4 linked regions of the Homo sapiens genome follow. The protein of the gene in region 1 interacts with the protein of each later gene in a pairwise test. Each region holds a gene or a part of one and is shown on either strand. Other genes may lie near its edges.

Region 1 (7,931 bases):
TATTTAATTTGTTTAAATTATTCACCAAAAGGACTTTAAACGTTATTATCAATTGTGCTGAAAAACAAAGGATTTATTTATTATTATTAGTTTTTTGAGGCAGGGTCTCACTCTGTTGCCCAGGCTGTAGTGCAGCAGCATGATCACGGCTCACTGCAGCCTTGACCTTTCGTGTTCAAACGATCCTCCCACCTTAGCCTCCTGAGTAGCTGGGACTACAGGCGCACACCACCATGCCCAGCTAATTTTTCATATTTTTTGTAGAGATGAGGTGTCGCTATGTTGCCCAGGCTGGTCTTGAACTCCTGGCCTCAAGTGATCCCACTGCCTTGGCCTCCCAAAAGTGCTGAGATTACAGGTGTAAGCCACCATGTCTGGCCTAGATAAAGGATCTTATTGGAGGGAGTTTTATACATCTTCAAGTTATTTGGCAGTTAAAAGTTTTAAATATTTCTATGATATTCTATTAAAGAATATTAATTAAAATTTTATGTTAATATAACTATCTGTAATCTATGAAACCATTTCCAAATAACTAATGAGGAATTTGCATTTTGTTATAATATTAGAAGGTATGTCAATTCGTGATATATTTTCCTTCTCATACCCACAATACTCACCTCATCTGCCAGAAGTGATAATTCAGTACTGTTTGCTGCATCATAATCATAGAGAACCCTGGCCTTTCTGCTGCCACTACACTCCTTAAGGTCACTGAGGTTGGAAGGAGAGGTGATTACTAGGCCACTTGTTGAAGCCATGGCAGAAGAACCAATCGCATTTGGTAAAACTGATGGTACAGGTGTCACAGAAGTCTGATTGTTGTTACTAAGATAATTGGATGGAAAACTGTTGAAAAGAAAGCAGCGAATTATTTATTTCCAAGTGACTAAAGCTCCTTAATACCACCACTCGGTGGCGCTGTTTACTTTCTACCAACCTTCACATTGGAAAAGATTTATAGATATTAATAATACGTTAATGACAAAGTATATCTATCTTCCTTTTCCCTCTTGGGCCAATTATACTAGAGACAATTCAGGTGGTATTCAAATATAAATCCTTGAAAGTCTGTTTCAAAACTGTCCTTATAATATTAACTTAAAATTAATGGCTATACTTTTTTCCCCAAAAAACTTCCATTAGAATGTTTTCTTAATCTTTTCTTTATAAATTACTAAATAAAAATATTGATGAAAAACTACTTAAATATTAGATACTACAAGTATGAGGCTTTCTTAATTTAATTCTTTGAGAAATATTTGAATAACTAAACCTTTTTTTCATAAACTGGTCCAATCACATTTTCCTATTCAAATAAAATATTTATTGTCATTTACATGTAAGTATTATTTACTTGTATCTACATGTTCAGCATGACTATGAGAAGCAGAAGACGTAAGATGAAATGATACTATTCCCTTAAGGACATACACATAGTGAGAAGGTAGACATTCAAATAATATGACTGCTAATTATCTCAATGAAATTGAAGACTCAATGGTAGAATAGGACAAATTTTACAAGTTCATTTGTGCTATTTTTTAGAAAAATTTTCTATTAGAAATTAGTGATTTTTGTGATTAATGTGCTCATAAATAATTTGAAGATAATTAGAATTTTCAGTTTATTTTAAGGCTAGTTTCCCCAATAATACCAAATATAAAACAGTACAAAATAGCTGGTCTGACATCATTCTAATTCAACCATTTCTAAGCTAAAAAATGATCTACAAAAATTCAAAGTTTTAATAAATTCATTAAACTAGAAAAGTCCTCTTTTCTCTTCACGAGCACTATACCATCTGGAAATCATTTCAGTCATCAGCAAAATTCCCTGTATCCTTAACCTCTTCTCTAAACCTTCCCTTCATCCTCCAGTGCTAGCGTTTATCTCCCATACTCCTCTTTTATCACTGAACCTAGAGGTCAATGGAGGAGTCTTATGTTCTTCATCACTGTTTTTAGACTCTTTTCCCTAAACAATTCTAGCCAATCCTTCAACTTCATGTTATTCAACTATAGCACATCATCTTTTCCTCCCACATTATCATATTTTATCATATTACATTTTATCATATTATCTTTCCTTCCCATATTACATTTTCTCCATCTATTGTATCATTCCCAACTCTTTAAAAAAAGAGATACCCAGTATCTCTTACTGCAATCACCTACAGATGCCTCATTCCCTTACTTTCATTTCTAGAAGATTTTATCACCTGGCTCACTGACATTATCTCTTACTTAATTCTTGGTGACTTTAATATCCAAATGGACAATTCTTCCAACCCTTTAGCCTCTTAGATCCTCGAACTCTTCTCTTCTAGTGACTTCATACCTGATCCTAGTTCAGCCACCTATTCCCACAGTCACATCTAGATCTTACCAATTCCAGTAACCACAACCCTTCCAATAATAATAGTTTCTACTATCCCATTCTTTGACCATCGCCTTTTTCTTTCAAGTGCTCTCACATCAACAAGCCTACCAGGGTCTATGATCCTACCAACACCTTCTTCATGTCCATAGTTAATTATTATAATAACTCTTAGATATGCTCTCATTTCTTATGCCACTCACTTCATTGTACTGATTTGGTAAAAACCTATTTACCTATTCAGTATCCATGCATCTACTTTAACAGGAGAAACACAGAAAAGCTTTGTTTTACATTCAATTTATGACTAGGAACCTCAAGTGGGTCCACATGCCACCTGGCAATGATACTACATTTCTCTACTCCATTCACTTTCACTTTCATTCCCCTGATGACTATTTCATACCCTCTTGCCCATCCTCAAAATTTCAGCAGTTCTCCCCATAACCATTACACTCAGTTGATGAGCTTGCTTCCTTTTAACTGAGAGGAAAAAAGAACAATCAGGAACTCCTTTTTTTTTTTTTGATACAGGAGTTCATTCCTTTTGCCCAGGCTGTAGTGCAGTGGTTCAATCTTGGCTCACTGCAACCTCTGCTTCCTGGGCTTAAGCAAGCAATTCTCTCGCCTCAGCTTCCTGAGTAGCTGGGACTACAGACATGCACCTCCACACCCAGTTAATTTTTGTATTTTTTTGTAGAGACAGCGTTTCACCATATTGACCAGGCTAATCTCAAACTCCTGAGCTCAAGTGATCTGCCCACCTTGATCTCCCAAAGTGCTGGGATTACAGGCATGAGCCACTGCGCCTGGCCAGGAAACTCTTTAATGAGCTGTCTATGCTCCTGATGCTAATTCCTCCATATGTGCACAAAATCTCATCCTTTTTTGCCTCTCTAGGGTATCACTCTAGCAATTCTTCCCTTTCCCTCCCACATTATCATATTTTCTCCACCTAGTGTATCATTCCCATCAGCTTACAAACATGCCCTTATTTCTCCTATCTTAAAAAACAAGCAAAAAATTGCTAGACCCCACTTTCTCCTCCGACTACTGCCTCATTCCTCTGTTCCCCTTTACACCAAAACCCCTTGAAAGATTTACGTATTCTTACGGTCACAATTCCTCTCCTCCGAGTCTCTTATATTACAAACATTACTTTGCGCCTACTGTTTCACCAAAACTACTCGTCAAGGTTAGCAATGACTTTAATGTTCCTAAATCCAATGGTCAATTCGTAGTCCTCTCACTTGACCTAGGCAGTGACCATTCTCTCCCACTTTCACACATGTTCACTTGACTTCCAGGCCATACTCTTAGTTTCCATTTTACCTCACTGCCTCACTCGTTATCATCTTCCTTGCCTCGTTCCTCAACTCTCTATGCTAGAGTACTTCAGGGATCAGTCCTTGATCCTCTCCTTTTCTCTATACTTACTCCTTTGAGGGTTTATCTAGTCTCACAGATTTAAATATCTTTGATATGCTGACAACTCTCTAATTATCTAATTCACCCTGCCCCCAATCCAAGTCCAGACCTGCATATCCTAAAATTGGATACCTCCACTTAAATGTTTAAGAGACATCTCAAACTTAACATATTTAAAACTGGGCTTCTAATATAACTGACATACTTCCCAGACCTCCATCCCTGAAATCTTTGCCTCCTCTGGCATTCCCCATTTTAACTATCTACAACTCCCCATTCTTTCAGTTACTTAGGTCAAAAACTTGCAGATGGACGTGGTGGCTCACGCCTATAATCCCAGCACTTTGAGAGGCTGAGGCGGGCAGATAGCCTGAGGCCAGGAGTTCAAGACCAGCCTGGCTAACATGGTGAAACCCCTTTTCTACTAAAAATGCAAAAAATTAGCTGGGCATGGTGGCGCACACCTGTAATCCTAGCTACTTGGGAGGCTGAGGCAGGAGAATCTCTTGAACCCGGGAGGCAGAGGTTGCAGTGAGCCGAAGTTGCGCCATTGTACTCCACCTTGGACTGGAAGAGTGAAACTCTGTCTCTAAAACAAAACAAAACAAAACCTTGCAATAATTCTTGACCTCTTTGTGTCCAATATACATACAGTCTGTCAAGCAAATCCTTCTGGCTTTAAGTCTAAAATACACCCACAGTCACGCCTGTAATCCCAGCACTTTGGGAGGCCGAGGCGGGCAGATCACAAGGTCAGGAGATCGAGACCATCCTGGCTAACACGGTGAAACCCTGTCTCTACTAAAAATACAAAAAATTAGCTGGGTGTGGTGGTGGGTGCCTGTAGTCCCCGCTACTCGGGTGGCTGAGGCAGGAGAATGGCATAAACCCAGATGGAGGAGCTTGCAGTGAGCCGAGATTGCGCCACTGCACTCCAGCCTGGGCAACAGAGCAAGACTCTGTCTCAAAAAAACAAAACAAAACAAAACAAAACAAACAAACAAAAAACAAACAACACCCACAGGCCCACAGGACCTGACCACTTCCATCCTACCTACCACAATTACCCTGATCCAAGCCACTGCCATCTTCTGACTGAATTACTGACTACATTATTGCAATAAGTTTGAAACAGATCAGTCAGCTTCCACCCAACACCTATCCTCAACGTGGCAGCCAGAATGATTCTGTTAAAGCCTAAAATTATGTCACTCTTCAGCTCAAAATTTCCAAAGGCGCCTCATCTCTGAGTAAAGACCAAAGTCGAAGCCCTATATGTTTTGGCTCCCCGTTTCCTCTACTCGTCTCTAGCCAAGCCCTCCTTGCTGTTCCTTGACCATACCAGCTATGTCATGCCCTCAGGGTTTTTGTACTTGCTGCACCCTCTACCTGGAGCATCTTCTCTCAGATGCCTGCATGTGTGCTTTCTCACGTCTTTCTCTACTCCCATCAAAGTAGTTTCCTGCTATATTTTCCGGTACACCATTTTCACCTTCTAATATACTATATAATTTATATACATATTGCTTTTCTGCTCCCTTCTGCCCCCATATAGAATGTAGATTCCAGGAAGGCAGGAATTTTGATTATTTTATTTATATACTATATCCCCCACATCTGGAACAGTACATTTTAAAAATGAAAAGCAAATGTTTCTCTGATGGATAAAGGGTGAAATAGTTTTAAATATAGCTTTTCCTCTCTAAAATTAAGACCACCTGTCCTAGTATCCTTTCCTCAGTGAACTCGGTTCTTCAGTAGGGATTAAATACATACATTTCTGAAGATAAGAAAAAGCTCTATTTATATGAATATGTATATACACATGGCTTTTTTAGTTCTCTAACCATATTTTACTTCCAAATCTACTAGTATGATTTTAGCCTTTGATTAGCCACTGAAGTGTACCTATGTCAATTTTGCAGAGTTAAAGATTTAAAAAATGAACTGAAAGGCCATTTTTACCTTCTAAGAACTTTTATTGATACGTTAAAAAATCATAGCAATTACTCATTCTATAAAAATGTCAATTAAGCCACTGGAGCTTGAAATGCAAAAGCCTTCCAATTATTAAAAAAATTGCTAATCTTGTGACTAGTACTTCTGCTTTCTCATCTTTAAAATATGGATAATAATAGTACCTACCTCATTTGGTGGTGAGGATTATAAAGTTAATAATACACATGAGGTGTCTGGAAGAGCACCTATGCACAACTTAAGCTCAACCAAAGTGATGGCTGTTATTCAGTTACTTCTACTACCTGTTGGTACTGTTATTGCAACTATTAACAATACAATCTGGTTCTCTTCTTCATAAATAGTTTTTGAATGTGTTAGTGTGAAGCTGGATGATTTGTCAAGTTCTATATTTGAATATTTCTATGTATTATCTTAAAAAGCATAACCTGCAACAAATTAAAGAGATAAAACTTCCTCCAATGTCATTGGTCATTAGCAATAATATAATTGAGGGTGGAGAGACAAGCTAGACTTTCTTTTCTAGAATAGTAGCACTGGTTTTACTTTGTATTGCTGGAGCTTATCTCAAAGAGCAGTAATAACGCAACAACTGGATTTTGTTTAAATGGCCAAGTCCTAAGCATAGTGTGGCTTTAAGTAGAATGCGAGTATAAGCAACCCCTATGCCGCACTTCCAGAGTTTCAGGATAAAGTGGAAAAAAGTACTAAGGCTTCTTGGGCTTAAAATAGTTATAATGATGTGAAGATAAAGTGCTGTTCTGCCTTGAGATATTAACACCACTAATAAAACCTCAAATATATAGTTATGTAAATGCTCCTGTATATTCTATTAAAATAACTAATGATTAGGCTACCATTCATTTTTGAGGTTCAAAATTGGTTTCATGGACGTGCTCAATTTTATTCTAGGCCAAGTTTTGAAGTGTTAATGTGCAGAAACAAACACCAAAGTGACTTTATTTACCTTATTCCTTGAAACGATTTTTTGATATTCATCCTTCAAATGCTACATATCGCTCCCCTGCTTTAATGGTTCCTCAATATATAAATTCCAAACTCCTTACAACAACTTACTTTAAAAGCCATTCATGGTATGACCCTGCTTAACTCCTCTAGATTCATCTACCATTCCATTCTTGAACACTATGCTCCAGCCTGAATGGACTACTATCAGTTCCCCGAACTTTCCCTACTCTCTTTCTTCTGGCTTTTTTATAAACATATTCTTCCTTGCTTAGAATATTCATCCCTGTCCCTTTCTTCATCTAGATTATTCCTACCAAGATAACTTCACCTGGGAAACTCTGCTAGATGTACCTCAGTCACAGTTAGATGCCTTCACAATACCAGGCACCTTCTGCTTTTCTGCCTACCACATGGCCTGTCTACCAACGGCTTGCTTTGTATTTCTACCTAGGCTAAGTGTTGTGAGAGCAGAGACCATGTTTGCCCTAAACATTATTTTATTTTCAGTGTCACCTTATAATGTGAGCTCCATAAAGGCAAGCATCTTTGCCTGTTTTGTTTGCTGATATTACCCCACAATATGTAACAGTGCTTGGCACATGGCAGATAGTCAATAAATACGTGATGAATGAGTGATTGAGCTTTGTGTTTTACATACTGTCATTTTGCTTTGAAGTATATTAACATACTCAAAATAATCACATCGGTAGATATGAGGTCTTACGAAATATTCTAAAACTTTTTTTCAATATAGTAAACAGATGAGTAATGAATAAGTATAAATTAGTTTATCTTTAAGGGTAACTGTCAATTTAATTATATCTTCCTCAACCAATAGCAAAAAGTATTCAGTAGCAGGAGAAAAGTGAACTTGAAACACTTTTAACCTTACAGCACTGAAAAGGTATTCACTTTTTCTCATCCCTGTTAACATGCCTCTGTGCCAGAAAAGCTCAAAATATTCTGTTACCTCAGAAAACTGATAATTACTTTCCTTAAAAAAAAGAAACTATTTCTAAGAAAGCTAGTAAGAACCTTTAATTGCTCTAATCTTCATCCTTAGTATTAGTTCATAAGCAAAAATCTGAATTTCTCCTCTTTACATGTGAAAAGTAAATTATCACCTTCCCAGTTGTTTCTGGAGGTCCAACATATACTGGTAACACTGTGCATAGTAA
Region 2 (8,219 bases), about 86 Mb from region 1:
AAAGCCTCCTCTTTGAGGACCCCAGAGATTGGCCAGGCCTGTGGGATGGACACAGAGGTCTTTCCCCTCAGCCCACAGTGGGAGAGGGAGACGCCAGCTCACCTCAGAGTAGGAAACCAGGAAAAAGCGCCAAGCCCTTCCCAGGCCCCTGAAACCAGGGAGCAGGCCCCACACAGCCAGTCCAAGGAGCTGGAAACTTCTGACAGGCTGCTGTGGGCCCAGGAAGCAGGGCCTTGCGCGAACAAGGGGCCTCCTCTCTCCTCCCGGCCCCGCTCTGGGTGCGGAGGGCCTGGCACGCACCTGTCTCTGGCCACCTGCTCCCGAGGACTCCCCAAGCCGTCTGGGCCGCTGGGGCTTCCATTCCTGCAACGTCAGCTGGTCTCACAGTGCCACAGCTGGGGAGCCTGGGGCCGGTGGGGCCACAGGAGGGCCGTGACCCCCTTAGACCTGAGGACTCTGAGCTGGGACAGTCAGCCAGGGAGAGGGTGGAAGAGTCTGGGGTGACCCAGGCCGCGGGGGCAGCCCTGCTGCAGGCTGGACTGATGGAGGCCTGCCGGGAACAGGGTGTGTGCTGAGCCCTGCGGGGAGGAGATCTGGGCCCAGTCAGTGCTGGGCGTCTGTGATGCCACAAGGTTGCAGGAGCCCCTGCCTGCGTCTGCACCGAAGAGCGCCGGGCACAGGGAACTGGGCTGGCATCCTGGGGCTGCTGGACGGGGCGTCTTCCCTCGCAGCCCTGGAGGCCACGCTCCTGACTCTGGGTAGAGCCCTTCCTTGCCTGGTGGGGTGGGGGTGGAGGGTCCTCAATCCTTGGCCTGCAGAGGCATCGCCTGGGTGTCAGTCTCTAGCCACACAGTGGCTTTTTCCCAGGTCTTTTCTGGTAAGGACACCAGTTCCGTGGGAGTAAGGCCACCTCAGGACCTTGCCTTAACGCAATTCCACCTGCAGAGACCCGACTTCCAGACAAGGTCAGTTTGTAGCTGCTGGGTTAGGGCTTGGAATATCTTTTAGGGGGCACAGTTCAGTCCCGTAACAGGAGCCTTGACAGCCAGGATCCCAGCCAGACACAGGTGGGCAGGTGGGAACCTGGAGGCCTCAGGGGCGGGGGTGCCTCCGGATGCAGGTAGCACTTTGCATCTTGGGGGTGACCAACCAGGCCACAGGCCCGGCGGGTACCCAGGGCTGGCCCAGAGAGCTGGAGCCAACGTCAGGTGCCTGCATGCCAGCCTCAGGGGGCAGAGAGGCAGGACCATAGTCCCCAGGAAGAGGGCAGAAGGGGGTGCTCTCCTCCTGGGGGATCCTGAAGGGACCAGAGCCCATCCTCTTGGCTTGACCTGCATTCCCTGCCGGCCCTGTGCCTCCTGGGGGCTGTGTGCGTGTGGCTGCGCCGTGCCCGTCCAGCCCTGACACTGTCCCCTCCATGGTAGGTTCTCGGGGCCACTAGAGGAGAAACATCCGTGTGGCTGAGGAAGAGTTGGCTGTTTTGTATCCCAAGTTCCCACATGGAAATGAATTCGGTGACCCCCCATCTCCCGAGGGCCTCCTGGTTTGGCCCTGGTCTCCGGGAACCGAGTACCTGGGTGGGTGGGGAGCTGTACAAGCTAAGACCAGGGAAGGACGCCTGGGGGACGGATGCCACGGCCCGTGCACGGTCGATTGGAGCCGCAGGGCAGGGAGGATCTACAGGGCAAGTTCCAGGTGAGACCAGAGAGAGCTGCAGCTGCCCCGGCTCTGGAAGCCCCCAGCCCTCCCGAGGCCCAGCCTTCAGCCCACGTATCCTCTGAACCCGTTCACCACGGTACGGCTGGGGAGGGTCAGCCTGGGGCAGGCTTTGTTCTGATATGAAATTTAATGTCTTAGGCTGAAAAACACTAAATTTCCATTTTTTTGTAGGTCAGAAGTGGTTGCAAACTGGATTTTTAGACTCTTCCTGTTGGGGGTCTCGGACATTTGCTCTTTTCCACAGCGGCCAATTCTTCAGAGCCACAAAGAACTGGGCGACGCAGGCCAGAGGTGTGGGAGTCCAGCCCTTGGTTCGAATCCCGCTCTCCACTGTCCATGGGGTTCTCAGCAAGCCCTCTGGCCTCTCCAAGCACACGCAGGGTTCCTCAAGCAATTCCAAACTCCAGAGAAGACATCCCAGGTAAAATCGGATGGCAGGGACCTGGGACACCGCTGTGACGGGCAGCCCCTGGGCTCGAGTCCACAACTCCCACGGGAGGGCAGGGCCCCATCCTGCTCACACCGGGGTCCCCAGCCCTCGATCCTCACGAGTCCTCGTCCAAGAACAAACTGTGCACACACGGGCGGTCAGTCCTGGATTCAAGGTGGCCCATCGGAGCTCGAACTCAACGGCCTGACCTAGGGACGCCTCCAGTCCCACCCCTACCTTTTGGAGGTGGGAGAATCACCGTGCAGGTCACTGACCCACTGACCACAGATCACCACTCTCTCCCGCCCCCGTTTCTTCCTCCTGAGACCACTGCTGCCTTCAAACGCAAGTAACCCAAACCTGCTCCCAAACCCATGGCAAGACTGACCCGGAGCCTAACCCAGCCCTGCCCCGAGCCTGACCCTGATGCTCGAGACTAGACCCCAGACTGGACCCGGTCCCAAAGTGGGACAACAAAGACCACAGCGGGGACCACCCAGGTCCCCCAGAGAGAAAACCCGCGTCGGACTCCAGGGAGCTCATGGTAACCCCTTGTCCTGGGGCAGCTTCATTTTACTTTGGCAAGGACCGCAGTGTTCGCTTTTCTCATTAAACGAGGGGCTTTCAAGGATGTGTTAAAGTACGTGAGAGACGGGCCTGGTGCCGGCTGGTCCTGTTTTCTTAAGGCGGAAGTTGGGGAACCGCGTCAGCACTCCGGGGTTCGGATTCCTGGAACCTGGGGCAGAGTCTGAAATAAAGCAGCACCGGCCCTGTGTGGCGCGGACCCATGGGAAGCCTTGAAAGGAAAGTCTCTTCAGAAAGAAACAATGGGTTCAGTGACTTGTACACTGAAAAGATAGATGGCCAGTTTTAAAGTTCTCCTGCGTTTAAACACGGGCAGCAGCGGGGTTGACGGTACAGGCACCAAGTTCTGACATAAAAGTCTTTCCTTAAATCATGTAAAAAAACCGAGACGTGCGCACTGCCAACTTACACTCATCGACACAAACTTACAATATTTATAAATAAGTCGCAAGCAAACACTGAGTTACATTTACCACGAAGTCACTGGACAGAGACCAAAATCCCATGAAAGCGGATTGATGTGAAACCACGTTAGATCTGAGACGCAGACGTGAGAAACGCCACTGATAAGAGACACGGAAGATCGGAGCCCAGCCCCGTGAGCCGGTCGGGGACAGCACGGGGGTCAGCGTGCGGCCGGGCCCGGCTCAGGCTCGCTGAGGTCCAGGAACGGGCACCTCCACCTGGACACGGCGCGCTGCCCCGGCAACCCCCAGGGGTCTCCCAAACGCAGACCGGGACGCAGCGACCACAAGCGTGGCTGCGGGACGGGGGCCTTGGGGCCCGGGCGTAGTGCGCCCGCTCGGCACCTGCCCCAAGGCGCCGCCGGGTGAAGCAGGTGTCCCGGAGGGCCGGGCCGCGGCGGCTCAGGGGATGCCCTCCCTTCTCTGGCAGCACTGCGAGGGCGGCGCGGACCAGTCGTACACGTAGGACAGGCGCAGCTGCACCTCGCGCTTGCACAGGCGGCCCTCGCGCGCCAGCGTCGCGTGCTTCTCCAGCATGTCCTCCAGGCTCTGCTTGTGCGTCACCAGGTACTGGTTGCTGCAGCCGCGGGACCGGTATTCGGTGTCGAAGCGCGGGTCGTGCTCCCGCTGGACGTCCACCGGCGCCAGCCAGGCGCCCAGAGACACGTCCTCGCTGTGCCAGGCGCGCAGGTAGTCGCGGCTGAGGCGCAGGTAGTGCACCAGGTCGGCCGAGAGCACGTAGCCGCCGCCCAGCGCGTAGGGCAGGTAGTAGTCGCAGAGTTGCCAGGCGGCCTCGCGCCAGCGCCCCCCCGGCTTGACGCGGCCGCGGCCCGAGAAGAAGCCCCAGTAGAGGCGGCGGCGGCGCGCGGGCTCGCGGGCGCGCAGCTCGGCCAGCAGCGCGTCCAGCCGCGCGAAGGAGTCGTCGTCCGCCTTGAGCACGAACTCGAAGGCCACGTGCTCGTCCAGCCAGGCCAGCATGGCCAGCACCTTGGCCGTGAGGTTTTCGTAGGCGTCGCGCAGCGCGGGCAGCAGCAGCAGGTCCCCGTGCCGCGCCTGCTCCCGCTCCAGGGCGCGCCGCTCCTCGGCGCCCAGGCCGGCCGTGCCCACGGCAAAGCGCGCCCACACGTCGCCCGGGGCCCCGCGCCGCGCAAGCCACGTGCTGCGGATCACGCTGCGGCGCTCGGCGGCGCGGGGCGCGCTGGCCACCAGCACTGCCAGGAAGGCGGCGGCGCGCGCGGGCGCGGGGGGAGGCGGGCTGCGGCCCGACATCGCCCTGGGGTCCCCGGGCTCGGCCGCGCAGCGCGCCAGGTAGAGCAGCGCCGCCCCGCACAGCGCCAGCGTGCCCAGGCCTAGCGCCGCCCGCCGCCGCCACGCCCGCCGCAGCAGCTTCATGGCGCCCGCGCCGGGCCGGCGGCCCAGGCCGGACTCGCGAGTGCGCAGGCGCCGCCGGCTCGGGGCGGTGCGCGTGCGCACGGCGCTCCTGGGAGCGCGCCGGGGCCTTCCGCAGACGCCGAGCCCCGGGGCGCTCGGAGGCCGGCGGCCAATCGGCGGCCGTCACGTGGCCTCGGGCACCCTTGTCATTGGTCAACCTCGGAGCGGCCCCGCGACCGCTTCCGCCCGGAGGAGAGATGGTGGCGCCGGCGTCCCCTCCGTGAGGTCGCGCCCGTTCGCACCGCCCCCGCCCGCAAGAAAGATGGCAGTGGCCTGATCCGGGCCCGTTGGCGGCGTCACTGACGCTTCGCTCCGGTCCTCGGATCCCGAGCGCGGGGAGGCAGACCGGTGAGTGAGGGGCCCGGGACGGCCGCTGCAGGCCGCGGGGCCAAGTGTACGCCGGCCGGACGGCGAGGGCGGGTCTGGAGGCCGCCGCCGCCTCCCGCCTTGGGCTGGGGCATCGTCCGTCCGCTCGGCCTTGAGCCCTGGCGAGACTCCGCCGCCACCGGGGCTCCCGGGGTTCCCGGGGGCAGGGACAGGCCGACGACGCTGGCCTCCCCGGCCGCCGGCACGTCTGGTCTCCTACTGGCCAAAACCTACGAATGCCACCGGGAAACGGAGGCCCAAGGGGTCTGGTTGGACTCGCGTTTATCGGCGAGGCGACCTTGGACAAGCTGCCCCGCTTCCCTGCGCCTGCGCTTCCGCTTCTGAACCGCGTGGACCCTCATCCCCAGTTAGTAGGATTTGGAGATGTGAAGTCGGCTGTGTGGAGCCCTTGATGTCTGGCTCAGAGGCGGTGTTATGAACCCTGTTGAGCTTTTAGAATCTAACCGTGTGTGTTGTTAACTGCCAGAAATAGCCTCGTTCCACCAGAGCTGAAGCCCAGGGATGGCAAAGAAATAGCGTCTCTGCCTAAGCTGTTTCCCACGTCCGTTTTGCAAGGGTGTGTTGATTCCTTGCTGGGAACTGAGCTGCTAGGGGATGGCGAAGTCGAAACCCCATTCCGGTGGGACCGGCCCGCTCCGCTGTGCTGCGAACCTGGCACACCGTGATGAATAGATACTCTGAAGCCAGGAGAGGAAGCGCCACTTGATGGACTCCTGATATTTATAGTTACTTTTGGGTTACTTTTTATTCCCCCTTTTTCGAGACAGGGTCTTATCTTTTTGTTTTTGTTTTTTAAAGAGACGCAGTCTCACTGTGTTGCCCAGGCTGGTCTCACGATCCTCCTGCCTCAAGTAAACCGTGTAACTCATCAAGATATGTAGAATCAAGAACTAGCTTTATTTTCTCTAGGAACAAAGTACAGTCTCTTTGCACACAGCGTGTGTTTTACGACTGTAGTTAGTGGAGTCAGCACCAGGAGGAGGTGTCTTGGTTCTTATCCAGGACTCTCCCCTGGTCAGGCGATCTGGGACGACAGGAATAGAATTATGCCACCACTAGGGAAGGGAAAAGCCCTCAGCCATGTTCAGAAAATCAGGCCGGGTGCATGGCTCACGCCTATAGTCCCAGCACTTTGGGAGGCCGAGGCAGGAGGATCACTTCAGGTCAGGAGTTAGAGACCAGCCTGGCCAACATGGCAAAACCCCATCTCTACTAAAAATACAGATTAGTGGAGAGTGGAGGTGGGTGCCTGTAATCCCAGCTAACTGGGAGGCCGAGGCAGGAGAATCACTTGAACCTGGGAGGTGGAGGTTGCAGTGAGCCGAGACTGCACCACTGCACTCCAGCCTGGGCGACAGAGTGAGACTCTGTCTCAGAAAAAAAAAAAAAATCAGACATGAGCCCCTCACCCAGGGTTTCCTTCCTTGGGGGAACTCAGGCTTGTACCCCTCTTGGTTTGTGGCAGACTGCACTGACTTCAGGACCACTTTCATGGCGGCCCCACTGGTGTTTCTCGATACCTGGAGGCAGCATTTTTTCGTTTAATATTACCCAGGGTAGCATTCGTTGAGCGCCTACTGTGTGCAGGCAGAGTGGCAGGTGCCAGAACAGTGAAGCTGAATAAGACGGCCACAGAACAGGAGTCTCAGTCCATGTGTGTTGAGGGAACAGCTGTGACATGGCGGGGCCTCAGCGGCACCCGAAAGGACCCGCAGGTGTTTGCCGGAGGGGCAGACTGTGAAAGGAGTAGGCTCGTGGGTGAGAAGGACCCCGAGTTCCCTTTGGGATACATGAGGCATGAGGCCCTGTGAGCCCCTGCTTCCCACCAGGACTGGCCACGCCTCGGACGGCAGGACAGACTTCTGGGCTCCTCGGCCTTGGCGTTCGCTCGCGAGTGTGGGCAAGGGCACATGTGTGTAATACGTGCATGCGTGAGTGTGGATGTGTGTGTGCACATCTGTGTGTGGGGGTTGTGTGTTTGTTTGCTGGGACCAGGCCCTGACGCCCTCTGCACTTAGGGTTGGCTGTCTTCGCAAAGCCTGGTCAGTCGGGGGGAGAGGGGGAGCCTCCTGTTTCTTAGTGAGAAGCTGAGGCCGGGGAGGCCACATGACTTAGCTAAGGTCATAGATCTCAAGAATGTTCAAGTCAGGGTCTGGAGAGTGACCCTAACCCCATGGGTCAGTGGCATGATGCCAGGAGGGACAGAGCCGGGCCCCACAGGAAAGCTGTGCTGCAGGTGTTGGGCGATGGGGACAGGTTAGCCCCTGGAGGTGCTGACAGCTCGAGAGAGAGATGGAAAGACGGAGAGACAGGGCTGAAAACTCAGTGTCTGTAAAAAAAAGACCGGGCACAGTGGCTCACGCCTGTAATCCCAGCACGTTGGGAGACTGAGGCAAGAGGATCGCTTGAAGCCAGGAGTTTGAGACCAGCCTGAGCAATACAGCGAGACCCGTCTCTACAAAGAGTAAAATAAAAATAAATTACTGGGCGTGGGGGTGCACGCCTGTGGTCGCAGCTGCTCCGGTGGCTGAGGCGAGAGCATCACCTGAGCCCAGAGCATCACCTGAGCCCAGGAGTTCGTGGTCACGGTGAGCTGTGGTCACCGCTGTACTCCAGCCTGGGTGACAGAGCAAGACCCTGTTTCTAAAAATAAAGAAAAAAACACCACGTGTGGTCCGGAGAAAACAAATGCCACGTGTGGTCCAGAGAAAACAAATGCCACGTGTGGCCCGGAGAAAACAATGCCACGTGTGGTCTGGAGAAGGCAGTGCCACGTGTGGTCTGGAGAAGGCGATGCCACATGTCTGGATCCTGTGAATCGAGGATATGTTTCATGTTGCAGGATAGACGTGCTTGGGGAAGTCTTTGCTGAGTCTTGCTAATGATGTGTCTGTGTCTCTCTGCAGACTGTGAGCTGCTTGTCCCCATCCTGCGGCCGTCCTGGGGACACAGAGCCCTCCGTGGTGCCCGGGGATTGGATTGGAGCCAGGACCTCACTTCCTCCTCTGCCCCTGCCCCTGCCCCTCCCAGCACCTGGCCCACACCCTGCAGCCCGCCCCATGGTCTGGCCCTGGGTGGCGATGGCGTCCAGGTGGGGTCCCCTCATTGGCCTGGCTCCGTGCTGCCTCTGGCTCCTGGGGGCAGTCCTTCTGATGGACGCGTCTGCACGGCCTGCCAACCACTCGTCCACTCGAGAGAGAGTA
Region 3 (7,473 bases), on another chromosome or scaffold:
CTTAAGTTCTGACCCACTAACCCATCCTCTACCAATATTGTTTATCTAGCGCAGGACAAATGTGAGGAGGCAGCCCGCAGCCCAGCACATGTGGGGAACCGTGTTAGTGTGTTCAGGCTGAGGGTTGGGGTTCTGCTGGGTAGGAGCGTCCTGAACTCCCTGAAACAGGAAAAGCCTTACGGGTATAAACTTTCCTCCTGATTAACCTTACTGAGTCATCCTTGTCAGAATGCCCTTCTAGGGAACCTCCAATGTATCTGGCATCTTTGACAGATGCCACTTCCTTTGTGCATAGAGCCAGGAAGAGCAATGTGGACACTACCAGAAGTCCAACATTTTCCTGGGCCTTCCGATCTCTCATGGGCCCCACACCCCACAACTCTTTTCCTGTATTCCCAATCCCTCTGTCAGTCTTTCTTCTTTGAACTCCTTCTTCCTCAGTGGCCCTCTTCTTCTAACCTCTCTAACACTCTAACCCACATAGCCTCTTCCATTGAGTATCCTTTATCCTCTCCACAGACCCTGTCAGGTTGATCCTTCTCCTCTTTACTCTGGACCTCTTCTAAGGTTCTTTGTGTTCCTCTCTACTCAATTTATTCTGTGTATTTTCCTCTAAGCCACAAGCTCTCTGATAGCTGTTCCTTCTTTTCATGCCCCATTCACCAAACACACCCGATCTTTTCAACAAGACAAAGGGCTTACACACAGCATGTCATGTACACACAAGTTTGTATTTTTTAGAGCAAAACAACAGTTAATGCTGGCAAAGATGTTTAGTTATCAGGGATTCCATAAGCTTTCAATACACTGAAAGGCAACATTTTTTGCATGTCTACAAATTATACATTTGTTTCCACACATGTGCCAAATTTTACCCTAACAGTTAGGACTTTTTCACCAAATCGTAGACATAGATATGGAAATCATCATCAAACTTGATGAAATACACAGAGGGTTTGGCTTCCACTTGGTGAATGACCATGCCGATCCTTTTGGAGCCATCTTCTTTGGTATATTCCACATGCTTACCTATTAGGCCATCTACAACTCCTCCTGGCTCCCTCTCTGTTGGAGGAGACTCACTGGATTCTGGCATGATGCGGAGGTCACCTTCCTTATAATCATCTAGAAGCTGGTACATGTACAAGACAGGATCTTTCTCATAGGTAATATAAAACCAGGCTTTCATGATAGGTGCTTGAGCTAAGACCATCCCCCTCCATTCATCCTTAGAACCATGCTCTCCCTCAAACATATGTTCCACTGCTTTGCCAATTATGGTATTTGCAAGGTTGGCATCACTAATGTGAGATGATGCCACCCTGTCAGAAAGAATTTTAAGAGACAAAACCCTTTCATCTCTGTGAAGTTCCAGTCCATAGACACAGTCAATTCCATCATATTTCACCAGATAAAGAGAGGGATTTATAGGCACCTGATCCAGAACGGTTCCTTTCCACTGCGTGATGGGCTCATCTCCTTCCTTCCATCCATGAGAAATTCTGCAGCCCACGATGTTCCTGCGGGGCTGGGATGAAGGTCGGCCTCTCTGCTTCTTTTGGGAGACTTTTTTCTTTGTCATGTTTGCAGACCCAGTGGCCCGTCCTGCAGCTGCCCTGGTTTGTTGCCCTTCGGCTTCCTGTGCGTTGGGGGTCTTCATGCCTGCTGGGGGAGGAGAGAGGATAGAGAGACACACCCAGTGTGCCACAAGGCAAACTTTTCCCTATAGCCATGTCTGGATGTAGTCTGCGCTAGTGCCTAAGTTTCCCCTAGGAGCCTGGAAGCAATGCTGGAAATCCTGGCTGCATGCCCGCAGTGCTCTCCCTCTTAAGTTCCTTTGGGCTGTGGGGAAGGGCTGGGGTGGTGCAGTAGAGCTGTCTGGGGTTAGGAACTCTGCAGAAGTGGCTGGGCCACCTCCTCCTAGCTCAGAGCCCACTGCCCTCCCGGAACCCCTTGCTACCACTGGCGTCCACTTCCAATCCCCTTGCAAAGAGGCCTTGACCGGCACCCACTGCCCTCCTTCCCTGAGCGTCCCAGCTGCTGTCCACAACACCCCCTGCCTACCCTAACCACTTCTCTGGTACCCACCGCCCTTGCTTCCCGGCGCTCACCTTCAAATCCTTGTCTGGCTCCCGTTCCTACCCCCTTTTCATGTTGCTCACCGCACTCCCCCACCCCACCCTTGCCTGGCGCCCAACTCCACCCCATGTCTCCTGCTGGATTCCTTCCCATCCCCCTCTCCATTCTGGCGCCCACTAATGGCCTTGCCCTGCCTGGCGTCCACCGCCGGGGATCGCGGGCCTCACGTGCCCAAATCGGACACCTCGCTGCTGCCTCCGCTACGAGCCTGTGGCGAAGGAGGGTCAGCAGGCGACCGGCCGAGTGAATGCTTGCAAGAGCGGGGAGGGTAGGATCCGTAGATGAGGAGCGTGTCTAGGAGGGCGGCGAGACAGGCAAAGAGGAAGGCAGCGGCGTCCCCACCGCTTGGCTCGCTAGCCCTCCGCCTCCCTGCTGGCGGTGGCGGCCCCTCAGCCACATCGGGATTCCACCAGTCCCTGCTGTCGCCGCGGCAGTCTCCTCCCTCTTTCCGTAGCGCAGCTTCCTGCCCAGAGAGAGGCCTCCTCTTCCTGTCAAACACCCGGCTCTCCTCTCCACCAGGCTCCCACGCCCACCACACAGCCTGTAGCCCCGGCGGAGCTATGGGCTCTGACTCCGCCTCTTTCCAAATCCGGAGTAGTTCGTGCCACAGTCGTCCTCGGAACCCTGTGGCCCCTTCCTCACCCGTTTCAGGGCCACTTGGTTCCCACCTCCACCTTCTTAGTCTGCCTGCCCTGCTTTCCATCTTCTTGGAATTCGCCTTGCTGCCGCCCCGCGCCCACCCCCGCGCCCACCCCTGCCCCTGCACCGTCCCATGCCCTTATGGATTTATTCTTTACACGTAAATATGTCTTTCCTCTTTTTGAAAGGATTTGGAGTTGGAACAGAGAAATTCACTATGGTAAGTCTGCCATTTTGACCCAGTCTCTACCTAATTTTTGCTGACTGATATTTCCTGGCATTTTTGTTTTTGTTTTCGAGGGATTTTTTTTTCCTTTTCTTTATTGCAAGATAATTGCATGTACAACGTGAACACTATCTACATTTTAGGAAATTAATATTAAGAGGAAAATCATCAACTGCAGTCCCATCTCCCATTTTTGAGGGCCTCACAGCAAAATATTAATGCTCATAGTTTTTTTTCCTTTTTCCTAAACTTTTGCAAAACTGGGATTTGTTTTTTATCTGCAATTCATGTCTATTAATTTTTCCAGGAAATTAGATGTTTTCTAATCGATTTTTTCATTCAACAAATATTTATTGAGCACCTGTTACATATCTTGCACTTGGTCCGTAAAACTCAATTTTAAAGTGATTTATAATTTGGCTTTTCTCCCAGTACTGGGCATTTGACATAATATTTCCACAATAACCAGTAATCAGATCTATGTATCGGAATAGAAAGCTTTGCAAAAAAATAACTTTATAAGAAATAATTAAAGTTATAGTTTTATAAATCAGTGGAGAAACGTTGGGTATTCTTTAAGGAATGTTGAAATAATTATTTAAATATTTTGAGAAAGGTTGTATACTAATGTTGTACCAGTATCAATATTTGATTTATTAAAAGGTAAAAAGCAGCAAAATAAAATTGAACAGAAAGCAAATGAACCAACCAAAAACTCTGTAAACAAAACAATGCTTAATGGTATCTTTCTTATTCAGATACTTATGGTATTTGAATGAGGGGATGAGTCGGATGTTAACAGAACAACTACACTTAATAAAATAACATCTACAAGGAAAAATAGAAGTAATAATAATCTCGATTCAACAGTCAAAGTATGAAAGAACATTAAAATATTACTTAATGTCATTGATCATGAAAAAGCTTCATATCTAGTGCTGATGCAAGTGAAAGTTTATACAATTTTTATGGAAAGCAATTTGCAGATATGTCATAGTTTCAGTGAGGGCTTTTTATTTTATTTTCATTTTTATTTTTTTAAATTATATTTTAAGTTCTAGGGTACATGTGCACAATGTGCAGGTTAGTTACATGTGTATACGTGTGCCATGTTGGTGTGCTGCACCCATTAACTCCTCATTTACATTAGGTATATCTCCTAATGCTATCCCTCTCCCCTACCCCCACCTCACAAGAGGCCCCATTGTGTGATGTTCCCCTTCCTGTGTCCATGTGTTCTCATTGTTCAATTCCCACCTATGAGTGAGAACATGCGGTGTTTGGTTTTTTGTCCTTGCGATAGTTTGCTGAGAATGATGGTTTCCAGCTTCATCCATGTCCCTACAAAGGACACGGACTCATCATTTTTTATGGCTGCATAGTATTCCATGGTGTATATGTGCCACATTTTCTTAATCCAGTCTATCATTGTTGGACATTTGGGTTGGTTCCAAGTCTTTGCTATTTTGAATAGTGCCGCAATAAACGTATGTGTGCATGTGTCTTTATAGCAGCATGACTTATAATCCTTTGGGTATATACCCAGTAATGGGATGGCTCGGTCAAATGGTATTTCTAATTCTAGAACCCTGAGGAATCGCCACGCTGACTTCCACAATGGTTCAACTAGTTTACAGTCCCACCAACAGTGTAAAAGTGTTCCTATTTCTCTACATCCTCTCCAGCACCTGTTGTTTCCTTACTTTTTAATGATCGCCATTCTAACAGGTGTGAGATGGTATCTCATTGTGGTTTTGATTTGCATTTCTCTGATGGCCAGTGATGAAGAGCATTTATTCATGTGTCTGTTGGCTGCATAAATGTCTTCTTTTGAGAAGTGTCTGTTCATATCCTTTGCCCACTTTTTGATGGGGTTGTTTGTTTTTTTCTTGTAAATTTGTTTGAGTTCATTGTAGATTCTGGATATTAGCCCTTTGTCAGGTGAGTAGATTGCAAAAACTTTCTCCCATTCTGTAGGTTGCCTGTTCACTCTGATGGTAGTTTCTTTTGCTGTGCAGAAGCTCTTTAGTTTAATTAGATCCCATTTGTCAATTTTGGCTTTTGTTGCCATTGCTTTTGGTGTTTTAGACATGAAGTCCTTTCCCATGCCTATGTCCTGAATGATATTGCCTAGGTTTTCTTCTAGGGTTTTTATGGTTTTAGGTCTAACGTTTAAGTCTTTAATCCATCTTGAATTAATTTTTGTATAAGGTGTAAGGAAGGGATCCAGTTTCAGCTTTCTACATATGGCTAGCCAGTTTTCCCAGCACCGTTTATTAAATAGGGAATCCTTTCCCCATTTCTTGTTTTTGTCAGGTTTGTCAAAGATCAGATAGTTGTAGATGTGTGGTGTTATTTCTGAGGGCTCTGTTCTGTTCCATTGGTCTATATCTCTGTTTTGGTACCAGTACCATGCTGTTTTGGTTAGTGTAGCCTTGTAGTATAGTTTGAAGTCAGGTAGCGTGATGCCTCCAGCTTTGTTCTTTTGGCTTAGGTTTGACTTGGCAATGCAGGCTCTTTTTTTGTTTCATATGAACTTTAAAGCAGTTTTTTCCAATTCTGTGAAGAATGTCATTGGTAGCTTAATGGGGAACGCATTGAATCTATAAATTACCTTGGGCAGTATGGCCATTTTCACGATATTGATTCTTCCTACCCATGAGCATGGAATGTTCTTCCATTTGTTTGTATCCTCTTTTATTTCCTTGTGCAGTGGTTTGTAGTTCTCCTTGAAGAGGCCCTTCACATCCCTTGTAAGTTGGATTCCTAGGTATTTTATTCTCTTTGAAGCAGTTGTGAATGAGAGTTCACTCATGATTTGGCTCCCTGTTTGTCTGTTATTGATGTATAAGAATGCTTGTGATTTTTGCACATTGATTTTGTATCCTGAGACTTGGCTGAAGTTGCTTATCAGCTTAAAGAGATTTTGGGCTGAGATGATGGGGTTTTCTAGATATACAATCATGTCATCTGCAAACAGGCATAATTTGACTTCCTCTTTTCCTAATTGAATACACTTCATTTCTTTCTCCTTCCTGATTGCCCTGGCCAGAACTTCCAACACTATGTTGAATAGAAGTGGTGAGAGAGGGCATCCCTGTCTTGTGCCAGTTTTCAACGGGAATGCTTCCAGTTTTTGCCCATTCAGTATGATATTGGCTGTGGGTTTGTCATAAATAGCTCTTATTATTTTGAGACACGTCCCATCAATACCTAATTTATTGAGAGTTTTTAGCACGAAGTGCTGTTGAATTTTGTCAGAGGCTTTTTCTGCATCTGTTGAGATAATCATGTGGTTTTTGTCTTCGGTTCTGTTTATGTGCTGGATTACGTGTATTGATTTGCATATGTTGAACCAGCCTTGCGTCCCAGGGATGAAGCTCAGTGAGGGCTTTTTTAAAGCTGTGGTTAACTGTTACTCCTAAGATTTCAACCCTGGAATTTCAATGAAAAGTAAGGGGTTGGGGGGTTACCAAGGTTCTGAACTCCAGATTCTGTATTCATGTATTTAACAAGCAGTCACAAGTTCTGCTGAGCATCAAAGTCTTTCAGTGGTTCCCTCTAGAATGGGTAAACTTTGCCAGTAGAAAAACATCCACCAAATGCCCTGTTTGCCTCTTGGACCTGTTCTCCTCCTATCTCAGCTAGGTAATTATTTCGTATTTCTCAGCTTTTAGATGCCATTGAGAGTGGATTTTCTTTTTTACTATATTTGTTCAGATTTAGTTAATTTGTTCAGATTTCAGGGAAAGTTGTTTTGAATTGTTTAGTCTCCTATTACTGAAATCTCAAACCCTATTTTTTATTATAAAATGCATGTGTTCATCATTAGGTTGTATACATTAAATAGGTACAGCTTTGTGTATGTAAATCATACCTCAGTAGTGGTTTGAAAAAGAAAAAAATGTGTTTAACTATTTGTAATGACTTCAAACTACAAAACACCTACATTTCCATCAGCAGTATATTGTATATGTTGGGGTATATTCATACATTGGAATATCATGCAGTAGTGAGAATGTTCAAGCTACAACTACATGCAAAAACATAAATGAATCTCTGAAATATGTTTAAAAAAGAGGCCAGACAACAAAGGGGCACACATTATTCTATTCAATTTATTTGAAGTTCAAAAACAATCATTAACTAATCTGTTGTCTAAAAAGTTAAGGTAGCAGTTATTCTTGCAAAGATATTTTCCAAATAGACAACAATTCATACTCTATCAGTAGTTGGCCAAAGTAAAAATTAGAGAGATCTTTGGACATGTATGTATGGCTAGAAAGGTTTATATAGATGCTGAGCTGCAAAATATATTTAACTGTAATAGACATCAATTGATACTGCAGCCTAGCATCTTATCACCATTCTTCTGGTAATAGTGCCACAGTTTTCCTCTTGGGAACAACATAAGCCTGACTTTTCAGAGTATGGAATTACTGTTACAATGATTAGTTTAGGAATAAGCA
Region 4 (7,931 bases), on another chromosome or scaffold:
CCTTACTGCCTTCACCTATACTCTGGCTGTTATAAGACAAATTTTATGTTTTTAAAGGAATGCTCACATTCTTCACTTCTCATGACTTTATGCTGAGAACAACTGTTATTTTATTATGCCAGAATAGCGGAGTACCCGAAAAAGAAAACTGATCTTGGAATGAGGTCAGAGAGAAAGCCTCTTCTGAGGGGAGATGGGTAGCACTAATAGGAAAGACAGCGGTTGAAAAGATGGCCAAGAAATAAGCTAGATGCATTCAGAAAGAGGTGAAAGTCACAGAACTGTGTGTGAATGAAGAGGGATGGGCAGATAAGAGCTTGGATCCCTACAGATTTTTTTGTATGTTTCTATCATATTTATGTGTGTGTGTGTGTCCAGTGGAGTTAACAGAAGATACAAGTTCCTTGGGGTCAGGATCCATGTAGCAGAGCTTTTACATAAAGGGTAACTGACCCACGGGTGTGTGCAATGATGGCATGATCTTATGCATCTACTGAAGAGGCAGGATGTTCTCTCATGGTATAGCATCATATTTCTCCCCAGAGACACTCTATTTGTAATGTGTGAGCCAAAGAAACAACTTAGGATTAGCTTCAATGTGCTCTAACCCATACAAATACAGTTTAATTAAAAAACTACGGTTTCTCTACCTCTGGAAAAGTCTTGGTGGTAGAGCAAAATATTTATTGGGTATTTGATTTTTGTAGAAGCCTCGAGTCTTTATTCTTTATGATCACTATTATATTATCTTGTCCAAAGTCTACACTGCATTGATAGTTTCAATTATATTAATATTGTTTTATTGAACTATAGCTTCAAAACCTAATTTTAAAAAAATGTCTGTCTCATTAAATGACCAATACTGTAGTCCATTGTATTCAACCATAACGTCCACATTTACACTTTCTAAGGAGTACATTGATGGATGACAAGTCTCTTGGTGTGCTGCAGGCTCCATACAAACATCAAGTCTTAGATTTACTACTGCTATTTAATATGAAGTCTTTTAGAATTAGGATTTTAATTCAGAAAGCCCAGCAAATGAAATATATGTAAGCAACCTTTGAATATCTGTAGCAGAAGTTGTATCCACATCAGAAAGTGGTAGCACTTGATTCCTGTTAGTGTCCATTCTGATTTCAAAATCTGAAAGGAAAGAATTGATATTAATTTTTCAAACATTCCTCCAAGTGACTTTCTTTTTCTTTTCTTTTCCTTTTTTTTTTTTTTTTTGAGATGTGGTCTCGCTCTGTCATCCAGGCTGGAGTGCAGTAGTGTGATCTCAGCTCACTGCAGCAACTTCCCAGGTTCAAGCAATCCTTTTACCCCACCCTGTTGAGTAGCTGGGACTACAGGGGCATGCCATCACGCCCATCTAAGTTTTGTATTTTTTTGGTAGAGACAGGATTTTACCATTTGGTCAGGCTGGTCTTGAACTCCTGAGCTCCAGTGATCCACCTGCCTCGGCCTCTCCACATGCTAGGATTACAGGCGTGTGCCACCGTGACCAGCCCCAAGTGATTTTCTGTTTCAAAATGTTTAATAGTACTACCAATAATGATAATAGCAGTAGCTAAAATATATTGAGAGCTAACCATGTGTCAGATACTAGTCTTGGGATTTTAGACACATAAAAATGTGTAGAATTTCATTTATTGGTCACAAGAATTTTATGAGGCAAGAATCAGGCCAGTTCCAGAGGCAATGCTGCACTACACTAAACTGCTGCCACAAATACCTATTTTTTTGGTCAGAAAAAAAGGAAAATAAATACAATAAAATGAAAGGAAATCATATAATGTCCCATACCAATATGATAATTGTGTGGCAAGTGCACATCCTTTGAGAAGTGTCCTTCACCTCCCAGAAGGCTGCTCAGCACCTCTGCCACCTTTGCATTTGTATGTGACGATGGCAGCTCCCGCGGCAGCTGTGGGAGTGACAAGGCTATGTCCCTCAGATAGACAGTATCATCAAGTTTTAGACAAGTATCCAAAGTATGCAGCTTGTAAGCATTCTTCATGTCATCTAAAAGATGAAAAAGAGAGTATATCATTAAGAAGAAATAAATGCAACATTAAAAAACTATATTAGTATATATTTAGTAATAGTTATAAAATAATAAATATATACATAAATGCACTTGTATTTCTAATTATCTCTTTCTTATCACAAGGACTCTCTCTTTGTCTCCCTGGTTTCCACAGGGTCTAAATCAAAGCCCTGCACTTGATAATGTTTTAAGGCTTCAAATATCTTTAGAGGTCATTTAGTCTAAACTCCTCAATTTATGGATAAGGAAATGCCCAGGAAAGTTAAAAAGCCTCGTAATTAAGGCAAAGTTGGAACTAGAATCCAGGTTTCCAAGGTTCAAGGCTGTTTCTCCATTATTACACTGCCTGAAAAACCAGCACGTGGTATTATTGACTGACTCTCTACAACTCAACTTTGGGATTTTATAACATTTATTTATTTATGTTTTAATTCTGAACTACTCTATTCTCAGACACATCGTCAAATTTTGTACATCTACCTGAATATTGCTTTGCCTTATTTAATACTAAAGACTAAAAGTCAACAGTTAATTTGGTTCCAAGAGTAAATGAACTAATTAATTTGGTGGCTATTTGGTTTCTTGATCTAACAGGTGTTCCCTCATCACAGGCCAGGAGTGACCAAGTGTTTACAGCTGCAAAAATTGACTTAGGTTGGCTTCAAATGTGATAAGTAAGGATTAGGAATTAAAACAGCTCTGATCAAAGCATAAAGAACAGCCTGAACAGTTAGCCTTTGTATAGAAGGATAGAGTATAAATAAAAGGAATAATGATGCATTCCTTATTTTTTTCTACATGTAGGACTTGTCATTAAAGAAGGGTCTGTAGGTTTGCTGCTTTGAAGCACTATCCTTTGACTTCACCATTATCAGCCCTTTCCACAGCAACACCTGCTCTGCAAATTTCAACTAACACTGCTCCAACTAAGACCCCATTCAGAGTCATATGGTAGCTAGTGGTAGTGCAGAATTGGTCACAATTGGTGACCAATTCTGCACTAACATCCTACCTGATGTCAGCAGCTCACTGATGATGTCTTTTTGCAGAAGCTGATTAAAAGGAGCCAGGGGAAAGTAATTCATCAAGCAAAATGAATATACTGCATCCAATAAGTTTTCAGAAGAAATAGTGTGAAGATAACCAGTCAGAGCACTAGCCATAACTTCCACGAACTGTCTGGGGAACAAAGAAAAGTCAGTTTCCCAACATATACAGAAGGCCAATATCTGTAACGATTCCAAAGAAAAGAGATAAGAAAATCAGCCTTGCAAGTAAGTATCCACACATCATTCTGGACAGTTGGTTATCTCATAATAAGTGTATACATTCAATAAATGTTGGCTATTGCTGTATGTCTTGCACGAGACAAACATTTTATAGACTTTAACTCATTTAACTCACACTAAAAAACTCCATGGGTATTACTATTATTCTCCTCATTTAAAAAAATGGGTAAACAGGCTTAGAGATTGAGTAACTTGTCTAAGAACACACAGACAAGGAAGTAGCAAAGGCAGTATTAGAACATAAGGTGTCAGGCTCCAGAACCTTTTCATAATTATGCTAGATTTTCTATAACGCCTGGACCACCACTACAGTTTTATAACCAACTAAAATTATCTAGTTATCAATACTATGGGTTAAAAGAACTGCAAGCCTAATCCTACCACCCACAGCTAATGGTACACAGTATAACGTGGTTAAGCACAAATGAAGACAGAAAAGATCAAAATCAGGGGCAGTCGCTTGCCCAGAGTGACACCACTAATAAATGGTAGATACCCTTTGAACACACGTCAATCTGATTCTCAGGGCATATGATACATATAGTTATATAAAAAAAGAAATACATGCAAAGTACTGTGATCTCGCAGAGGAAAGAAAATAAACAGAAGCTTTTGGGAGGAGAATTTGAATAAGTGGAAAAGATGGAATAAGGGAAGAAGATTTGAGCACAGCCCTGAAAGCACATGCTACTTGCCTGATAGTGAATAACTGGTGAGATGAAGGTACAGAGGAGTGTTTCTTAACAGCTGGGGCAAATATGCCTGGACACAAGCCCTTGTTAACAATGAGACTGAAATCAACTGAGAGGTCCATGGGTAGGGGAAGAAGTGTTGGGGAGGATGAAGGGCTGTGATAAGGCCAGGAAAACGATAGGAATTATGATGAAATGGGAGGAATATAACAGATCATATACGCAATAGCAAGGCAGCACGTCTGAAATTAGTACTGACTGCTTTTGGAACATGCAGTGGGATGCGGGGGCAGGGGATGGTGTGGACAAGGAAGTTGGGAGCCTGGGTAATGATCCCCCCTCTGGTCTTCTCTTGCCCCACTCCTCACCCTGTACCTCATGCTTCAGCAGCCCAAACTGTGTGCTGTTCCCTGCATGTGCTCTGCTGTTTCTTTCCTCCAGGTCTTGCATATAGAGGGCCTTTCACTTGGAATGTTCTTTCCTGCTTATCTTTCCATGGTAAAACCCCATCTCTCCATCTTTTAAGATCAGCTCAGATACCAACCCCTCCAGGCAACACTGCCTGATATCCCCTGACCCTCCTCTTCACCAGGCTGGCATCCTGATATATCCTTCCTCTATTTCCAAATATCCTAGATGATATGGTTTGGCTGTGTCCCCACCCAAATCTCATTTTGAATTGTAGCTCCTATAATTCCCTTGTGTTGTGAGGGACCCAGTGGTAGATAGCTGAATCATGGGGGTGGTTTCCCCCATACTCTTCTTGTGGTAGTCAATAAGTCTCACGAGATCTGATAGTTTTATAAGGGGAAACCCCTTTTGCTTGGCTGTCTCTCTTGTCTGCTGCCCTGTGAGATGTGCCTTTCATCTTCTGCCATGATTGTGGGGCCTCCCCAGCCATGTGGAACTGTGAGTCCATTAAACCTCTTTCTTTTGTAAAGTGCCCAGTCTCGGGTATGTCTTTATCAGCTGCGTGAAAACAGACTAATATGCTAGATCACTCGAATTTTCATGCTATATTTAACTGCCAATTTACATATCTACCTTACCCATTACACAGAATCCTCTGGCAAGAAGGACTGTCTTATTCATCTTTCTCCTAAGTGTCCAGGTGCTTGGCAAATGCTGACTAAACGAACAAATAAACTTTGATGAGGAAGACAGGAGGACGAGCTTGTCATTGGAAAACGATGAGTCAAGAAAAATAGCTGACTTCCAGAATTACTGAACTTGAGACACTTCTGGGATGTGCAGTGACCATATGCAACCCACAGAGACTCAGGTCTGGAGTTAAGGAGCACACTAATGACCACAGATGCAAATGTGGGATTATCCATAAGGTGGTAAATACAGATCAAGAAGAGAAGAAACCAAAGGACCAAAACAACAGAGCTTAAACGTTACATATTTGTTCCTTGGGTTCAAAGCCCAGCAAGATACTCTGGATTTAACACCCTCTCCCCGATGGGCCATCATAAATGAAATAATGATTAATGTATAGCATGTGGGTATACAATAAGCCAGAATTCCTACCACTCTCCTATCTAACCATCTCTTCTAGTCAACTCTCTTCCCAAATACTTTGAGTTATTCTGCTTCCAAAACCTTTGCTACTCCAGATAAGTTGCCATCTTCCTTTCTCCTTCCTCCATAAAGCACTTACTTGGTGCCTACCATGTACTGCCTTCCTCTGGATATACAACAGAGTTGTTCTCATAAATGGTCTAGGAAGAGCAGGGAATACAAACTTCTTTTTTTATAGCCTTCAAAATACCAAATCCAGGCAATTGTACATTCATGGGCATTCAGGAAATGGTGACTAATTAATCTTGCTATATCTGCCATATTGCCCCTACTTCTCCTTTGGAGAAATGTTGAGGTGGGAGGCTTAGAATTAGGTAAGGGTTTCTCAATCTCAGCACTACTAACATCCGGGGCTGGATAATTCCTTATTGTGAGGGGCTATCTTCTGCATAGTAGGATGTTAGCGGCACCCCTGGCCTCTGTCCACTAGAGGCCAGTAGCACAGACCTCCCTCCTGTTGTGGCAACTAAAAACCATCTCCATACCTTGCCAAATGTCCCCTGGGAGGCAAAATCATCCCTGTTTGAAAACCACTAGGTTAAATGAAAGCAGAATAGACAGACAAAAAGACAACATTCATGATTCTCCTCCTGTACTAATTCTACTACTGCCATTTTATTAAATGTCCTCCCAGCCTTTGTTACCTTTGTTATCCCCCCTCTATTTTCAATGTAACAATTTTGTTGGAACAAGTTATCTCTCAGGTTGCCTGGAGTCACCTGAAAAACTCTTACCCGCCCAGTACTTACTCTCTTAATCCCTCTGGGGCTGTTTCTGGAGTTTTAATTACCACTTAGCTTGATATTATTTGTCTAGAAAGTACAAGGCATCAATGGGAGCCAGCCTCAGAAGAAAATGAAGCCAGGGGAGTAAAGGAAGATTGAATTTGGGAGATATTTTTCGACCTTTATTAAATGTCTACTCTTTGGCAGGTCCTGTACTAAGTTCAGAAAAACAGGCAGCTGGGTCGGACTCCGGAGAGCTTACCAACTGAGGAGCAGAGACAGACTTACTGACACAACAAATGATGTGACACAACTTGTCATGTCTTACCCAGTCTCCGGTGCAGCCTGTTGTCAAGGCTGCACCGGAGACTGGGTAAGACATGACAAGCACAGGGACTCTGACGGTGACAATTAGGGAAGACACAGGAAATGCAGTATGAGCTGAGTCTGTCCATTCAGTGGACAGTACAGTGGGAAGCTGCTTTTTAGTTGGCCTGACACCACTTAATTGATTAACTGCCCCTAAGGGATGGGCATTTGACTCAAACTCAGTCAATCAGATGTTCTCTTTCAGAAATCTAAATCTGGAGGGAAAACTAAAAGGAAAGCAAGCAGCTGGAGTCAAGTCATTTGATGGCAAACAGATGGCCTGTGCATCTTGCCACTGAGACCTTCACAACTGCCCTAGTTTGTTCCCCCAAGGCCTCTGTGACCTACACTCTAATTTTTTTCAAATCTAAAAATTACTATGTGCTGGGCATTGTCATAAGAACTTGACATAGATTAACTCATTTAATTCTAATAACAACCCAATGAGATTAGACATAGCTCATCTCCATTTTAATAAGTGAATAAACTGAGGCACAGATAAGTAATTTGCCAAAAGTCAAGCAGCTAACAAATGGCAATGCTGAAACTCAAACCTAAGCAAGCTAGCTCTAGAGTCCATGCTTTTAATCACTGTTTTAACAAATGACATTTTATATGCTTTTCTGATTTTTAATGAACCCTGACTGATCCAAAGAGTAAGAAAAGATGTTCTGGGTAGAAAGCAGAGGTATGAAAGAAGCTGGCACATTTGAGGAATTACTGTATTTAATAGTAGGAATGCATGGCTGTGGTTAAAATGAAAAGAATAGAAAGCAGTAGCTTGAGACCAAATGAATAGTTAAGGTCAAAACTGAACTAGAAGAAGGTCCAGTTCTCACAGCTTCTCAGAAACACTGATTTAGCAAGGACATATAGACAAAAATACCTTTATGAAAAGTCCAGAAACCAATTAAGATATTGTCGTACTCCAGACAAGAACAAAACCAAGAAGAGTTGCACTGAAACAGGCAAGAAGAACATTTTACCCAGGTCAGCCCCTCCCCAAAGCCGGCACAGCTCAGCACCAAGGAGATCACCTTGGCCTAGGACTTCTCCCTTGGAGGGAGAGAGTAGAGTGTGCAACCAACATCCGGCTTTTCACTGTGCTGCCCTAGGGGCTGGATTTCTGTCTAAACTCACGTGGAATACTAACAAAACCAGCAGGGTTCAGATGCCTGAGAGCAGTTAAGAACAAAGGAAAAGGGGTGGACAGCTTCCT

The links.
Region 2: the proteins of SH3GLB1 (region 1) and SDF4 interact in binary tests that used the Homo sapiens proteins (3 or more experiments, as listed by UniProt).
Region 3: the proteins of SH3GLB1 (region 1) and SPIN2B interact in binary tests that used the Homo sapiens proteins (3 or more experiments, as listed by UniProt).
Region 4: the proteins of SH3GLB1 (region 1) and FASTKD2 interact in binary tests that used the Homo sapiens proteins (3 or more experiments, as listed by UniProt).

The regions. Positions count from the first base shown.
Region 1 is NC_000001.11:86,735,126-86,743,056, reverse strand, and holds part of SH3GLB1 (endophilin-B1), read right to left. Parts: coding exon 7,878-7,931; intron 850-7,877; coding exon 621-849; intron 1-620. UniProt on the Homo sapiens protein: May be required for normal outer mitochondrial membrane dynamics. Required for coatomer-mediated retrograde transport in certain cells. May recruit other proteins to membranes with high curvature. May promote membrane fusion.
Region 2 is NC_000001.11:1,228,650-1,236,868, reverse strand, and holds the start of SDF4 (45 kDa calcium-binding protein isoform 2 precursor), read left to right. Parts: upstream 1-4,867; 5' UTR 4,868-4,977; exon of another isoform or gene 4,978-5,362; intron 5,363-7,922; 5' UTR 7,923-8,075; coding exon of another isoform or gene 8,076-8,096; coding exon 8,097-8,219. Other genes in the region: B3GALT6 (beta-1,3-galactosyltransferase 6 precursor), read right to left, coding at 3,601-4,590. UniProt on the Homo sapiens protein: May regulate calcium-dependent activities in the endoplasmic reticulum lumen or post-ER compartment. Isoform 5 may be involved in the exocytosis of zymogens by pancreatic acini.
Region 3 is NC_000023.11:57,118,970-57,126,442, forward strand, and holds SPIN2B (spindlin-2B), read right to left. Parts: upstream 2,580-7,473; 5' UTR 2,269-2,579; exon of another isoform or gene 2,245-2,268; coding exon of another isoform or gene 2,112-2,244; intron 1,666-2,111; coding exon of another isoform or gene 1,661-1,665; coding exon 884-1,660; 3' UTR 713-883; downstream 1-712. UniProt on the Homo sapiens protein: Involved in the regulation of cell cycle progression, this activity is related to the inhibition of apoptosis following the removal of essential growth factors. Exhibits H3K4me3-binding activity.
Region 4 is NC_000002.12:206,782,034-206,789,964, reverse strand, and holds part of FASTKD2 (FAST kinase domain-containing protein 2, mitochondrial), read right to left. Parts: intron 6,732-7,931; exon of another isoform or gene 6,657-6,731; intron 3,233-6,656; coding exon 3,066-3,232; intron 2,029-3,065; coding exon 1,810-2,028; intron 1,147-1,809; coding exon 1,062-1,146; intron 1-1,061. UniProt on the Homo sapiens protein: Plays an important role in assembly of the mitochondrial large ribosomal subunit.